Linked DNA regions of Homo sapiens. The protein of the gene in region 1 purifies or fractionates together with the protein of each later gene. This does not show direct contact. Each region holds a gene or a part of one and is shown on either strand. Other genes may lie near its edges.

What was found. Proteins that work in one complex are often made in the same cells at the same time.
Region 2: the proteins of DNAJC27 (region 1) and FAM184A purify together in Homo sapiens (affinity purification with mass spectrometry; 2 studies listed by BioGRID and IntAct, with this or other methods). This does not show direct contact.

Annotation. Positions count from the first base shown.
Region 1 is NC_000002.12:24,954,940-24,961,967, reverse strand, and holds part of DNAJC27 (dnaJ homolog subfamily C member 27), read left to right. Parts: intron 1-3,993; coding exon 3,994-4,158; intron 4,159-4,802; coding exon 4,803-4,925; intron 4,926-5,830; coding exon of another isoform or gene 5,831-5,881; exon of another isoform or gene 5,882-5,937; intron 5,938-7,028. UniProt on the Homo sapiens protein: GTPase which can activate the MEK/ERK pathway and induce cell transformation when overexpressed. May act as a nuclear scaffold for MAPK1, probably by association with MAPK1 nuclear export signal leading to enhanced ERK1/ERK2 signaling.
Region 2 is NC_000006.12:118,970,644-118,977,671, reverse strand, and holds part of FAM184A (protein FAM184A), read left to right. Parts: intron 1-1,627; coding exon 1,628-1,755; intron 1,756-2,463; coding exon 2,464-2,648; intron 2,649-3,097; coding exon 3,098-3,244; intron 3,245-7,028.

The DNA of each region.
Region 1 (7,028 bases):
ACCCACATTAGAACTTCATTCAAAATTGGAGTCAATTCAGTTAAACTCTGCTGCTGCCTTATCAACTAAGTTTATGTAATACTCTAAATTCTTGCTTGTCATTTCAAGAATGTTCATAGCATCTTCACTAGGAGTAGATTCCATCTCAAGAAACCACTTTCTTTGCTCATTGATATGAAGCAACTCCTTATTTATTTTTTATCGTGAGACTGCAGTAATTCAGTCACATCTTCAGGCCCTACTTCTAATTCTAGTTCTCTTCCTATTTCCACCACATCTGCAGTTACTTCCTCCACTGATGTCTTGAACTCCCACAGAGTTATCTGTAAGGGTTGGAATCAACTTCCAAACTCTTGTTAAGGTTGATACTTTGACCTCTCCCCTGAATCACGAATGTTCTTAATGGCATCTAGAATGGCGAATGCTTTCTACAAGGTTTTCAATTTGCTTTGCCTAGAGTAATCACTATGGCAGCTGTAGCCTTGCAAAATGTATTTTTTAAACAGTAAGACTTCAAAGTCAAAATTATTCCTTGATCCATGGGTTGCAGAATGGATGTTGTGTTAGCAGGCATAATAAAAACAGCTTTAATCTCTTCGTATTTCTCCATCAGAACTCTTGGGTAATTAGGTGCATTGTGAATGAGCAGTAATATTTTGAAAGGAATCCTTTTTTCTGAGTAGTAGGTCTCAGTAGTGGGCTTAAAATATTCAGTAAACTATGCTTAAACAGATCTGCTGTCATCCAGACCTTGCTGTTCCATTTATAGAGCACAGGCAGAGTAGATTTAGCATAATTCTTAAGGGCCCTAGGATTTTCATTATGGCAAATGAGCATCAGCTCATATAGCCCGTAACAGCTCTGTCAGCCCGTAACAAGAGAGTCAGCCTGTCCTTTGAAGCTTTTGAAGCCAGGCATCGACTTTTCCTCTCTAGCCTTGAAAGTCCTAGATATCATCTTCTTCCATTAGATCTATCTATTCCAAGCCTGTTTCATCTGCATTGAAAATCTGTTGCTTTGATTAGCCACCTTCATCAATGATCTTAGCTAGATATTTTGAATAACTTGCAGCACTACATCAGCATGTGCTGCTTCATGTTGCCCTTTTATGTTACGAAGATGGCTTCTTTCCCTAAACCTCATGAACCAACAACTGCTAGCTTCTGACTTTTCCTCTGCAGCTTCCTCATCTCTCTCAGCCTTCATGGAAATGAAGAGAGTTAGAGACTTGCTGTGCATTAGGTTTTGGCTTAAGAGAAGGTTGTGGCTGGTTTGGACTTCTATCCAGACCACTAACGCTTTCTCCATATCAGCAATATGCTGTCTCACTTTCTTAGCATTCATGTGTTCACTAGATTAGCATTTTTAATTTCATTCAAGAAGTTTTCCTTTGCATTCATAACTTGGCTAGCTGTTTGGTACAAAAGGCCCAGCTTTTGGCCTATCTGTTTTTGAAATGCCTTCCTCACTAAGCTTAATCATTTAAAGGTTTTGATTTAAAATGAGAGATACATGACTCTTCCTTTTACTTGAACACTTAGAGGCCGTTGTATTGTTATTAATTGGCCTACTTTCAATATTGTTTTGTCTCAGGGAAGAGGAAGGCTCCAGGAGTGGGAGAGAGATGGGGCAACAGCCATTTGGTGGAACAGTCAGAATATAGACAACATTTATTAAGTTTGCTGTCTTAAATGACCTTATATGTTCATGGTATCCCAAAACACTTAAAATAGTAACAGATATCACTGATCACAGATGATCGTAACAGACATAATAATGATGAAAAGTTTGAAGTATTATAAGTGTTACCAAAATGTGACACACACATAAAGTGAACACACACTGTGGAAAAATGGCATCAATAGACTTGCTTGACTTAGGGTTGCCACAGATCTTCACTTTGTAAAAAAACACAATATGTACATACTGTGCAATAAAGTGAGGTGTGCCTATGTGCCTTACATAGGTGCAATAAAGTGAGGTGTGCCTGCATCTGCTAGGCCCTGTGGGTGACACAAGGGAGGATACATGAAGATGATGCATGTCTTCACATTTCTTCTAGTGTAGGAGGGAAGACAGCTGGATATGCTACTAACTGTAAAACTGGGCAGGAAGTGATGGCACTATGAAAGTACAAAACAGTATGGTACTCCAGGGGACATAGAGATTACATTCTGTTTTGCAGGAGTAGGGGGCTGGATGGTGAGGAATGGAACAGAGAAAGCTGCATGAAAGATACAGCATTATAGCCAGGGCTTGAACAATTAAAGATAAAGAGGTATCTGTTTCCAGATGGAGTTAGGAAGGCTTGGGCAAGTTTGGGGAATGAGAGATTCCCCAGTTTGAAGGTCAGGAGCTAGTGGGAGGATAAGACTGGGAAGGTTGGTGGAGGACTGATCAGAAACTTTTAACATCATTTGAGAAAGTTGGAACTTTGGAGAATAGTTTAAGAAGGAAGAAGTTGAGGGGTTTCCTGTGTGCATATTGAATTTGAGATTCCAACAGGACATTCAGCTGGAAGAATGTTGTGCTAATTAGAAATGCAGGTCTGGAACCTCAGAGGAGAGGGCTCATCTTGGAGATTCTCACAGTTGAAACTGTACAAGTGGTTGATGTTGCTGATTTGGGAGGAAGGATTCAAAACGAAAGGAAGAAGGCATAGGACAGGATTTGGGGGATTTTGGTGGTAAGCTGGAGTGGGAGCAATAGAGAGAAGGGGAGTTGGTGAAAGAGAATTTAAGAGCCTAGGGAATGTGATGTATGGGAGCCAAGGCAGTGAGAGTTTTAGAAAAGAAGAGAGAGCCCGTCGTTAACTGCTGTAGAAGGGCCAAGGACCATGAGTACTGAGGGAAAGGACTGGTGGGCTTCATCATCTTCAGTTCTTTCTGATTTTGTTGGTTTTAACTTTAGGGGATAGCTTCTTAGGTTTCTGTAAACAAATAGGAGCACTTAATATCCTTGGTCCAGATATCTGCCTATGCCCAGAAACCCTACCCGATGTGTATAACATGTTTTCATTTCTTACTACATAGCTTGTGTGGGTCTGAGTACATTTGGGAATTTTGTGAAAAGAACATATAATATATGGGCTCTGTCAGGATTCTTTCTGGAACTTTGTCCCGGAAACCCCATGTGTCAATGCTGCTCCTTAACTTCTCTCTGGCCCTAATGTTTGAGTATGCCCATATTTCATGCTGCCTCTTCCCACATTTGGAATGAAGCCCAGAGAATGAATGCAAGGAAGGAAGGGGAAGGTGTTAAATAGACATTGTTTTTCAGGCACCATGCTAAGTACTTTGCCTGCATTATCTCATTTAACCATCATAATAACCCTGTGAAGTAAGTAGTATTATCCCCATTTTACAGATGAGGAAACTGAGACGCAGAGAGGTTAAGTGACTTGCCCAAGATCACAAAACTAGTAAGTAAGTGTGAACCCAGATCTGTCTGACTCCAGAGCCTGTGCTCTTTTCCATTGTATCACACTGAGGCTCTGAGTTTGGAGTTCTAAAGTTGGTGTGCAGACCCGAGAGTCAGGGAAGCTCTGCCTAGCACCCTGGGGGAAGCCAGCTTTGGGATGTGATTTATAAATGGCTGTACCCATTGCTGACACTTATGTCATTTTGGCCTTAAGTTCTTTTGAATTGCTCACTCACCTTCCTAATTCTTCCTAAGAAGAACTTTATATAATTGATGTTCTTTTAAGGTCTACTATAATTAAAGACTGATTGCCTCTAGGGAGTGGAACTGGAGGTGGGACGGGGTGGGGCAGGAGGCTGTTGTTTTCCATTGTAAGTCCTTCTATGCTAATACATTTTTAGAATGACATTACTTTGATTCTATAAAAAACCCTCTAATGACCAGTAGAAACAGATACAATAGCAAACACTAAGAATACACAAAAGAACACACTTTGCCAGGTTAATGACTGTGAGATACATTCTTATAACATCACAAAAACTACGTTTTGTGTATCTGTCCTTTTATTTGAAGGTTCGAAATGAGTTTTACAAGGACACACAGGGTGTGATACTGGTCTATGATGTTGGGCAGAAAGACTCCTTTGACGCCCTTGATGCGTGGCTGGCAGAAATGAAGCAAGAGCTTGGACCTCATGGAAACATGGAAAATATTATATTTGTAGTTTGTGCCAACAAGGTAACCCCTCTGGAAATGGTGTGTTCAGATTTCTAGGGAAAGAGTGGAGCTTTGAGTGTTGGGAAACAAAAAGAAAAGAAAAATTCCTTATTGTGTAATATGGAAATCAATAACCTTTCAAAACATAATGTCCCTAAGACAAAAACAAAACAACACAGCAGCCTAAAACCTGCTATATCAAAATTTGTATACATTTTTTTTTTTCTGGTGCCATACATGGGGAAGGATGTTGGTGACTGAGTGGGAGCAATGGTTCCTAATAATCAGACTCTGACCCGACTGGAGTAGGGGCATTAATTAGGTGATGTGGACTATGGAAAGGTGTGAAAAGCAGACTATGGCCCCAAGGGTATGGCAGATGTCATGAAGCCAACTTTCACAGAACTGAGTAACAGCTGTTTTCCCAAGGGATCAGGTGGGACATTGCAGCAGCAGGCACTAGTCCTGTTGCCATAGAATATCAGTCTACATTCAATATTAAGTTTTGTTTCTGTCCCTTTGGTCCTGGTAATTTTACACACTAGTGCAGGCATTTACTAAGAATAGCTTTGCCTTAGTAAAGGATTGACAGAGACCCTCACTGGGTCCATTCTAGTAGGACAAGATTGTAATCTTCTCTCTGTCCCCCGCCCCTTCTATTTCAGATTGATTGTACCAAACATCGCTGTGTAGATGAAAGTGAAGGACGTCTTTGGGCTGAAAGCAAAGGGTTCCTGTACTTTGAAACTTCAGCACAAACTGGAGAAGGCATTAATGAGATGTTCCAGGTAAGCTAGCATTTTGTTGTTTTAAGGTTTGTGTCAAGGCCACTGTGCCAATTTTCAGTTTAAATTATAGGAAGCAAAAAAGTAATAGGAATTTCTCATTAGAATAAGCTCTTTCTTTTCAAAGAATCTAGTGAGATAGAAATAGAGAAAGGGGGAGAGAAAGGAAGAGAGAATGAGAATGAGTGATCTGACTGCTGTCTATTTTAGATGAGACTTAGCTGATCACCAGAATTACCTGAGGAAATTCTTAAAATACATACTTCTAGGCTTCAGACCTACTGGAAGCTTATGTTGCGATGGAGCCCAGGAATCTATATTTTGAAAAAGCTCTCTCTCCAGGCGATTCTGAAGATCATCAAGTTTAACAAAAGTTATTATACACTGCTTAAGCAGGACAGAGATTTTCTTCAAAGCTACCTTTGGCTAATGGTATTACATTTATATGCATAATCAGATAGAAGCATTACTGTGGCAAAATTGCCTTGCCACCGCTAGTATAATCCTATATTGTAGCCCACAGGGGTGCAGTTAGAGAATAGGAGACTGTCAGTATAGACTCCATCCAGTCACACATAAAAATAAGGCCTCGCCAATCAAGCAGGAAATAGAGGGAGGCGCTCACATCACAACCTGAACAGATGGCCACTTTAAAAAAACCTACTCATCTTGAGTAATTTTAAGGGAAATAGGCTATTTAAAACAATAACTTATAAAGTCAGCCCTTAATTATAGATACATTTGGAAGTAAGTGGTAGCATGAATAATGTAGTTTTCTTCTTATGAATATATCTGATATTTTGGGAATTTTTAGCATTTCAAATAAAGTAGTTACACTATAAAGAGTTGTTCTTAATTATTGAGTGGGATTGTACTTAATCTTTTATGCTGAATTTCCTTCTCACAAGATGTCACTCCTCCTGCTAGAAGACAGATTTCTTCCTTGGCTGACAGGCTGAATTAAGCAAAAGTATTTTCTATTTCAAGATCAAATAAAGTTGATGCTGGTTTGCCATGCTTTCTATTCTTTTGAGTACTTGGAGCTATGTGACTTTGTGCCTGTATGTGTACAATAATGATACCTAACCATTTGAATAGTACTTCACCATTCTGGAGAATTTTACACATTTCATCTCATGGAGACTTACAGCAACAATGTGTGGCAAGTATTGTTATCATTTCATATATGAGAGCATCTAAGGGTAGTAAAGTGATTTGTCCAAGGGACATACTTGTTAGAAATGAGATTTTTTTCAACACTTTAAAGATGCTGGTCCATTCTCTTCTGGCCTCCATTGTGTGTCATGAGATGTTAGCACTCATTCTGACTCTTATTAATCTCTGTACCTAATGTGCCCTTTTTACCCCCTGGCTGCTTTCAAGAGTTTCTCTTTTCTTTGGTTTTCAGCAGTTAGAATATGATGTGCCAAGATGTGATTCTCTTCATTTTTATTCTATTTAGGATTTACTGAGTTTCTAAGATTGGTAGGTGGGTGTTTTTCATCAAATTTGGGGAGTTTTCTGTTTTGTTTTTGTTTTACTATTATTTCTTCAGAGTTTTTTTGGCCACATTCTGGCTCTCTTTACCTTCTTGGCCTCCAATTACATGTATATTAGACCATTTGATTTTGTCCCAGAGTCCCTGAGGCTATATTTATTTTTCTTCCATTTTTTTATGCATTTTTCAGATTGCATAGTCTCTGTTGATTTGACTTCACCACTGACAATCTACTGTTAAACTCCCTGAGGGAAGTTTTCAGCTCTAGAATTTGCATTTGGTTCCCAGTATAGTTCTCAGTTCTCTATTAGATTCTCTGCTCACTCATTAAGAGTATATTTTCCTTTAATTCTTTGAATGTATTTTTCTTTACCTCTTTGAAATATTTATAATAGCTGTTTTACAGTCTTCATCTGCTAAGTCCAACATTTGAACCATCTTGGGTTCAGTTTCTATTTACTACCTTTTTTCCTGACTATGGATCACATTTACATGTTTCTTTGTATGAGTAGTGGTTTTTGATTGAACACCAGACCTTGTGGATAACACATTGTAGAGACTCTAGATTCTTTTATCTTCCTCAGAAGACCGTTGGTTTTTTTTTCTTT
Region 2 (7,028 bases), on another chromosome or scaffold:
ATTACCCTGTTCATTTCTATGATTTTGTCAGGTTAAGAATGCTCTAATTTTATAAATGAAATCATACAATATTTAACCTTTTTGGGGAGAAGGGATAGGGTCTCACTCTGTTGCCCAGGTTAAGAATGCAGTGGTGTGCTATCAGCTCACTGCAACCTCCACCTCCCGGGTTCAAGCAATCCTCCTGCCTCAGCCTCCTAAGTAGCTGGGACTATAAGTGTGTGCTGCCACACCCAGCTAATTTTTGTAATTTTTGTAGGCAGGGTTTCACCATGTTGCCCAAGCTGGTCTCAAACTCCAGGCCTCAAGTGATCTACGGGTCTCGGCCTCCCAAAGTGCTGGGATTACAGGTGTGAACCACCACACCCAACAATATTTAACATGTAGAGGTTGGCCTTTTTTCACTCGGCATAATTATCTGAAGTCATCTAGGTTATTGTGTGTATCAACAGTTTGTTTCTTTTTATTGCCAAGTAGTATTCAGTGGTTTTGATCCACCGTAGTTTGTTGTCCTTTGCCCGTTAAAGATCACCTGAGCTTTTAGTTCTTAGCTGTTACAAATAAAGCTGCTATAAACATTCACGTACAAATTTCATATAAACATAAGTTTCATTTCTCTGGGATAAGTGCCTAGGAGTGCGGTTGCTGGGTCATATGGCAGCTGCATATGTAGTTTTGTAACAAACTGCCAAACATTTTCTAGAGTGATTGTACCATTTTCCATCCCTACTAGCATCATATAAATTTTGCTCACATCCTCACCAACATTTGATGTTGTCATTATATTTCATCCTTTCTGATAGGAATGTGTGATAACTCATTCTGGTTTTAATTTGCATTTTCCTAGTGGCTCATGATATTGAACATTTTTCAATATCATGAGAACATTGACCAGCCAGGCTCCTTTAGGGATATTTTTGAAGAATTCTTATTTGGGTGAGAAGTTGCCTCCTAAATATTTGTTATGGTACCATTAAACTCTAAAATTTCATTCTTTTTTTTTTTTTTGAGATGGAGTCTCACTCTGTTGCCCAGGCTGGAGTGCAATGGCGTGATCTCGGCTCATTGCAACCTCTGCCTCCCAGGTTCACGCAATTCTCCTGTGTCAGTCTTCTGAGTAGCTAAGATTACAGGAACCTACCACCATGCCTGGCTAATTTTTTGTATTTTTAGTAGAGACGGGGTTTCACCATGTTGATCAGGCTGGTCTCGAACTCCTGACCTCAGGTGATCCACCCACCTCGGCCTCCCAAAGTGCTGGGATTATAGGCATGAGCCCCCGTGCTTGACCAAATTTTATTATCCTAATAGTGAAAGAGACGAATTAAAAATACTTCATCTCCATTAGCACTTTACCTGCATACTGAAAGCATGTATAAAAATACCTTGATCCGCTTAAACATTTGAAATATTTTATATCCTCATCAAAGCTACATTAACTTTAAATTCATGATAGTATATTGTAGTCTGTAATATTTAAATTTGTCATAGTTTATAATCTATTAATTTAATGGACATACACAAGTGTTCTAATTTTTGAAATAATTTTTTACTTCTATAATTTTTATCTAAAGTATTGATAATATTTTTTAAATGTGCCAAATGTATTTTTGCCTTGCAATTCCAGCTTCCTTGCGCTCAGAACTCAACCATCAACATGCAGCTGCAATTGATTTGTTACGGCATAATCATCATCAAGAATTGGCAGCTGCTAAAATGGAATTAGAGAGAAGCATAGACATCAGCAGAAGACAGGTAAGTAAGAGTATTCTGTACTCTGATGATTTCTTAAATTTGAATAGATTGAATGTTCATAATTTCCTGAAAATTATTTTGTAATAACTTATTTTCACTAGTTATCACATTCTATTTATATTGAAGAGCTTTATTTGATTCAGTTATTTATTTATTTGAGACAGGGTCTCGCTTTGTCACTGAGGCTGGAGTGGAGTGGCACAATCACAGAAGGGAGCTTAACTGTCAGATAACTGCTAGAGCAGCACTAAACTAAGTCTGCTTTGTAAGCCATGTGATGTGTGTGTTTTAGGAGGGCCTCCTTAGATGCACTTTCTCTTTAGATTATAGGCAGTGGTGCCACAATTATTCTTCAAAATCATGTAAAACTTACTGAGGATGTAAGAGCACTGTGTTCTAATCTCAACTAATCCACTGATTATAAATCATCTTTGGGTATTGGTTTCCTCATCTGTAAAATGAGAGAGATGTCCTTTGACCTTTTGGGTTCTTTGTAATCTGACATTATTGAAGCTATATCCATATACACACTATATGTGTGGAAAGAGAACAGGCCTTGAGGTTTTCTCATTTCAGCAGTTTGCTTTTGAAGAAGCAATGTCAGAATGATTACATTTGACATTCCAGTGTGTCATTTTCTTTCCCGCAGATAAACACAGAAATCAAATATGTAGAAAACTTCTAAAAATGACTTTTTTTTTTTAACAGAGTAAGGAGCACATATGTAGAATTACAGATCTACAAGAGGAATTAAGACACAGAGAGCATCACATCTCTGAATTGGATAAGGAGGTTCAGCACCTTCATGAGAATATAAGTGCCCTAACCAAAGAACTGGAATTTAAGGGGAAAGAAATTCTCAGAATACGAAGTGAATCTAACCAACAGATAAGGTATGCCATTAAGTACAACAGAAGGAATATGCAGTGTCATCTGAAAAACTGTTGTGCTGATATTTAGTAATCTATGCTAATTTTGTGACTAGACTGGCTCTCTAGTAAAATATTGAAGACCTCTTTTTACTTTATTTGATGACTATGTTATAATCTAGAACACAGATGAAATGTTTATATCTTGAATGATGTAACATGTATTCATTCACTTTGGAAATTGTATATAATTAACTGAATTCTTTTTAAAATGTTATTTGAAAAAGCATTAAAGGAGACAACTTTAACAAAGCCAGAAGCTTATAGCAGAAAGTAAGTAGCTTAATTTAGGCTGTTTACATAAATTTTCTATATATTATACCAAAAACCATTTCAAATCTGGTAGAATAATAGAAAGTTTTGAAAGCTTGACTTCAGAATAACATTTTCTTAACTAAAAATAAATCAAACAGGTTGCATGAACAAGATTTAAACAAGAGACTTGAAAAAGAGTTGGATGTCATGACAGCAGACCACCTCAGAGAGAAAAATATCATGCGGGCAGATTTTAATAAGACTAACGAGCTACTCAAGGAAATAAATGCCGCTTTACAAGTGTCGTAAGTCATATTATATAAGAAAATTCATATGTGGATAATAAATTTAGGAGCACTGTGTTTAACCTCAGATTAGCTGTTATTTTGACTCTAATAAAAAGGATACTTTAAAAAGAAAATTTTAGTGCTGTGTTACAGATGGTAATTGCAGTGCTATATGTTCTTTAATTAGGATGAGGCAGTTGAATGATGATGTTTTATCAACTAAGACTGCACCAGTTCTGCTAGAACAGTAATCTAAAGAATGTTCCTTAGGATCATGAACTATCATGCCATGGTGAAAACTGAAAATATGGCTATATATAATGTTAAGTAAAAAGAATATATAGTGAACAATAGGAATACTATGATCCTATATACACACTAATAATGTATATTTTACCAAAATATCAAAATATCTTAACAAATACCAAATTTTAATGGTAATGGTTCCCTCAAGAGAATGGATTAGGAGGTACTGGAGATGAGAAAGAGCAATTCTTTCTTTTTATTTTATATACTCCACTTACATATTGTTTAAATTCCTACAAGAAGCATCTAATTGTCTTATGATTTTAAAAATCAATAAAGGGGAAAACATTACAAATAAAGTTACCGCTCATACATAGTAACTACAGTATTGTTAAAACCAAAGTTTCTAATTCTTATTTAATGTTCTTTGGAAACATTTAATAACCCTTCCTTTCCTAGATGCTTGTAAACTGATGTAGCTAATGCAGTTTGTACTCAGTCCATCTCTGTGGCCTAAACCCTGGTCCAACATAAGTTATTTCAGAATTAATCTACTCTAAGCTGCTGCTAGTAGTTTATTCACCTTTAGTCTCTCCTCTTCCAATCAAATATATATATATCCACATACTTCAGTAAAGTCACAATTAGTGACTAATCCCATTATCCTTCATGTCAAAGTCAAATGTAAACTTAACAGCTCCAATGTGCCTTATTCTACATCATCCAACAGCAACCCTTATTTCTTATTCTGTCTTTTTATCAGCCTAGTGGACCTTCTTGGTTTCCTGTGTTGTCCTCTACAGTCTAGAATAACCTCCTGTGTTGTTGCCGTTTTAAGTATTGTCCTCAAATCTAAAAATTATCTTCTTTTATTTGATTTATGTGACCAATTCAATCTTTCGGTAAAGATTGTTACATACATAGGCAACACCACAACACACACATACAGACGCACACATGCACACACATGTATTCACTTAAGCCACAGCAGAAAACAGGTCCCCAGTTGTTATTTACTTGAGTATGCTGTGAGATGAGGTGCTCTTTCTGATGGGCATATTCAGAATCGTTACATTAGTTAAGCACTCAGTGAATGTTTCATGAATGAATTTTATGATTCTTTCTCCATCATATTTACCACTTTTTGAAGTTGCCTTTGAAATGGTGAGGAAACTTGTGTTACTTCCCTGGTCACTCTGAGTTTGGTGTTTGCTGTTATTAGAGGTGATTTTTAAATCCTTTTGGGCCAAGTATGAGCTCAGGTATCTGCCTTGTATAACAGCTCATAACCCCATACTTTTGCAGAAATGATTTACAATAGACCTCAATTCCTTGGCTGTCCTTTTTCCTGGCCTCAGTGGTACTCCTCAGACAGAGACTGAAATCTTGGCATCCCCCACTTCATGCTCCGAAAAAACATAGTCACAGAAAGAATAACGTCAGTCTGTCTGTGTGTCCTGTCTCCTTAGGAATGTTAATTTACAAAGAGTAAAGGTTGTGTCCTTGTTTTTCCTTTATTCTGTTGCATATGGTTTTGCACATTATGAATCTTCAGTAGGTAGCAAATAACTTAGTTTTTGATTTTATGATCATTTTTAATAATCAAAGAATTAGTATTTGCTTTTAAGTAAACTACCTGCTTTTCTAGACTCTCCTTTCATTTTAATGCTTCCACTTGGGTCCATGCTAACCAATTATGTTTCTTTTTTCACCAGAAACTTACTGCCACCAGGTAATTACCCCCTAGCTTTAGGTGTTTACTCCTTTAGTTAAAAACAAACACACACCAAATTTATATTTGACCAACACTGTCCAATAGATTGTGATAATGAAAATGTTTTGTATCTGCTTTGTCCAGGTTAGTAGCTTCTAGCTAAAAATGGCTCTTGAATGCTTGAACGGTGATTAGCATAACTGAGGAGCTGAATTTATAAATTTCATTTAATTTTAATTAATTTAAATGTAAATAGCCATATGCAGACTAATGGCTACAATGTTGGAAAACATAGTTTTAGACAATTGGTTGTTTCTGTTTCATATCCTTAAATGCAGCCTGCTTGGATCTGCTGAATGGTTTGGATTTAGACAGGTAGTGAGCAGGGAGAGTTGGTTCCAACTTATGGAGCTGTGGGAAACAGTATCTGTACTGTTCCCAAGGACTAGGGGATTCTATTGAAGTTCCTAATCAGCTGCACCCTGGCTTTAAAACTTTGAAATCAGAAGAGTCCTGTGGATTCCTGGAAGGCAGTGGTGCTGGGGGCTGAAGGGACATGGTGCAGCCTGACAGGCCACAGCCTGCCACTGAGGAAGCTTGGGGGCAGAGGCAGCTTCTTGCTTCTGCTCCTGCCCCAAATCCTGTTGAACTCCCTTCCTGGAGAGAGAAGGGTGGGGCAACACATGTAAAGGATGGGAAATACCCTCTAAGTCTGTAAGTATTGTAGAAGTGGTGATGAGTTCTATATTGCTTATGGATGATGATTATTACAAATCCGCTTTGGTGCTGGAAGTTAAAGTTTTAGATTTTTCAGAGAGTTCTATAGAAATTTTATTTTTCAGTGATATAGTAGTAAAAACTTTATATCTAATAAAAATGTCCTGATTCTGGTTTCTTTTAGAAACAAATGAGAAAATGGGCTGTTTGATTTTTTTTTATCTGAATGATTTACTCTGTAAGTAAAGAAAGTTCAAGCTAAATGAAAACATTCTCTACAACTTGAGGTCATGGCCGATTTTTAATATGCAAAAAGATGGTTCTGAGATTACTGATTGTTTAGGTTTATTTCACAAAAGATGATTTCTTCTTGAGAGAAATGTTGAGTTTCTATACTTAGATTTTAAATAGATCAGTAATCCCCAATTGAAAAGAAGCACTCCGCCACACCTGAATTACTAATTTTTTGTTTAAGTTTTGAGTCCTTTCATCTATAATACCCAAATAACTTTTGTTTTTGTTGTCATTTGATTTTTAATTTACCATTCAGGTATGGTTGTAAGCTTTGTGAGGTACGGAAGTAGTCTTGTCACAAATCAGAGTCTGTGCGTAATTTATGGGAAAAGAAAGGTTCAGCGTTAAAGTGCTTCAATTGCTATATTTCCTTTATTTAAGAGTTTAGAAAATGATGATATAGGAGTTTTTTCATCTTTATAAAATCAAAGTTATAGGATATATGTGTGCATAATATACTATTGTTTGGTTATGAAACAATAGTATACCATTTTTGGTTCTAAAATTCACTGATTTTATTTTTTTATCCTTTTCTTTTTCTTAACAAGACTATAACTTGGAAACTTTGTATACAGCTTTTTAGGCATTTGTAATTTAGGCCTGTTGTCCATGAATCACAGACATTGACCTGTATATTGTCAGAGCCAAAGAAAGCAGGGCATGCATGCCTGGTGAGAATCCATCAGTGGCCCTAATTAGTAATTTTATATGTTCTACTTCTCCTTTCTCCTTTTTTCCCCCTTTCTCTTCTCTCTTCTATTACTTTTAATGGAAATCTGTAAAATTTGAGTAAAAGGCTACACTTGTGTGGTATTCTCAAGGCGGCATTTC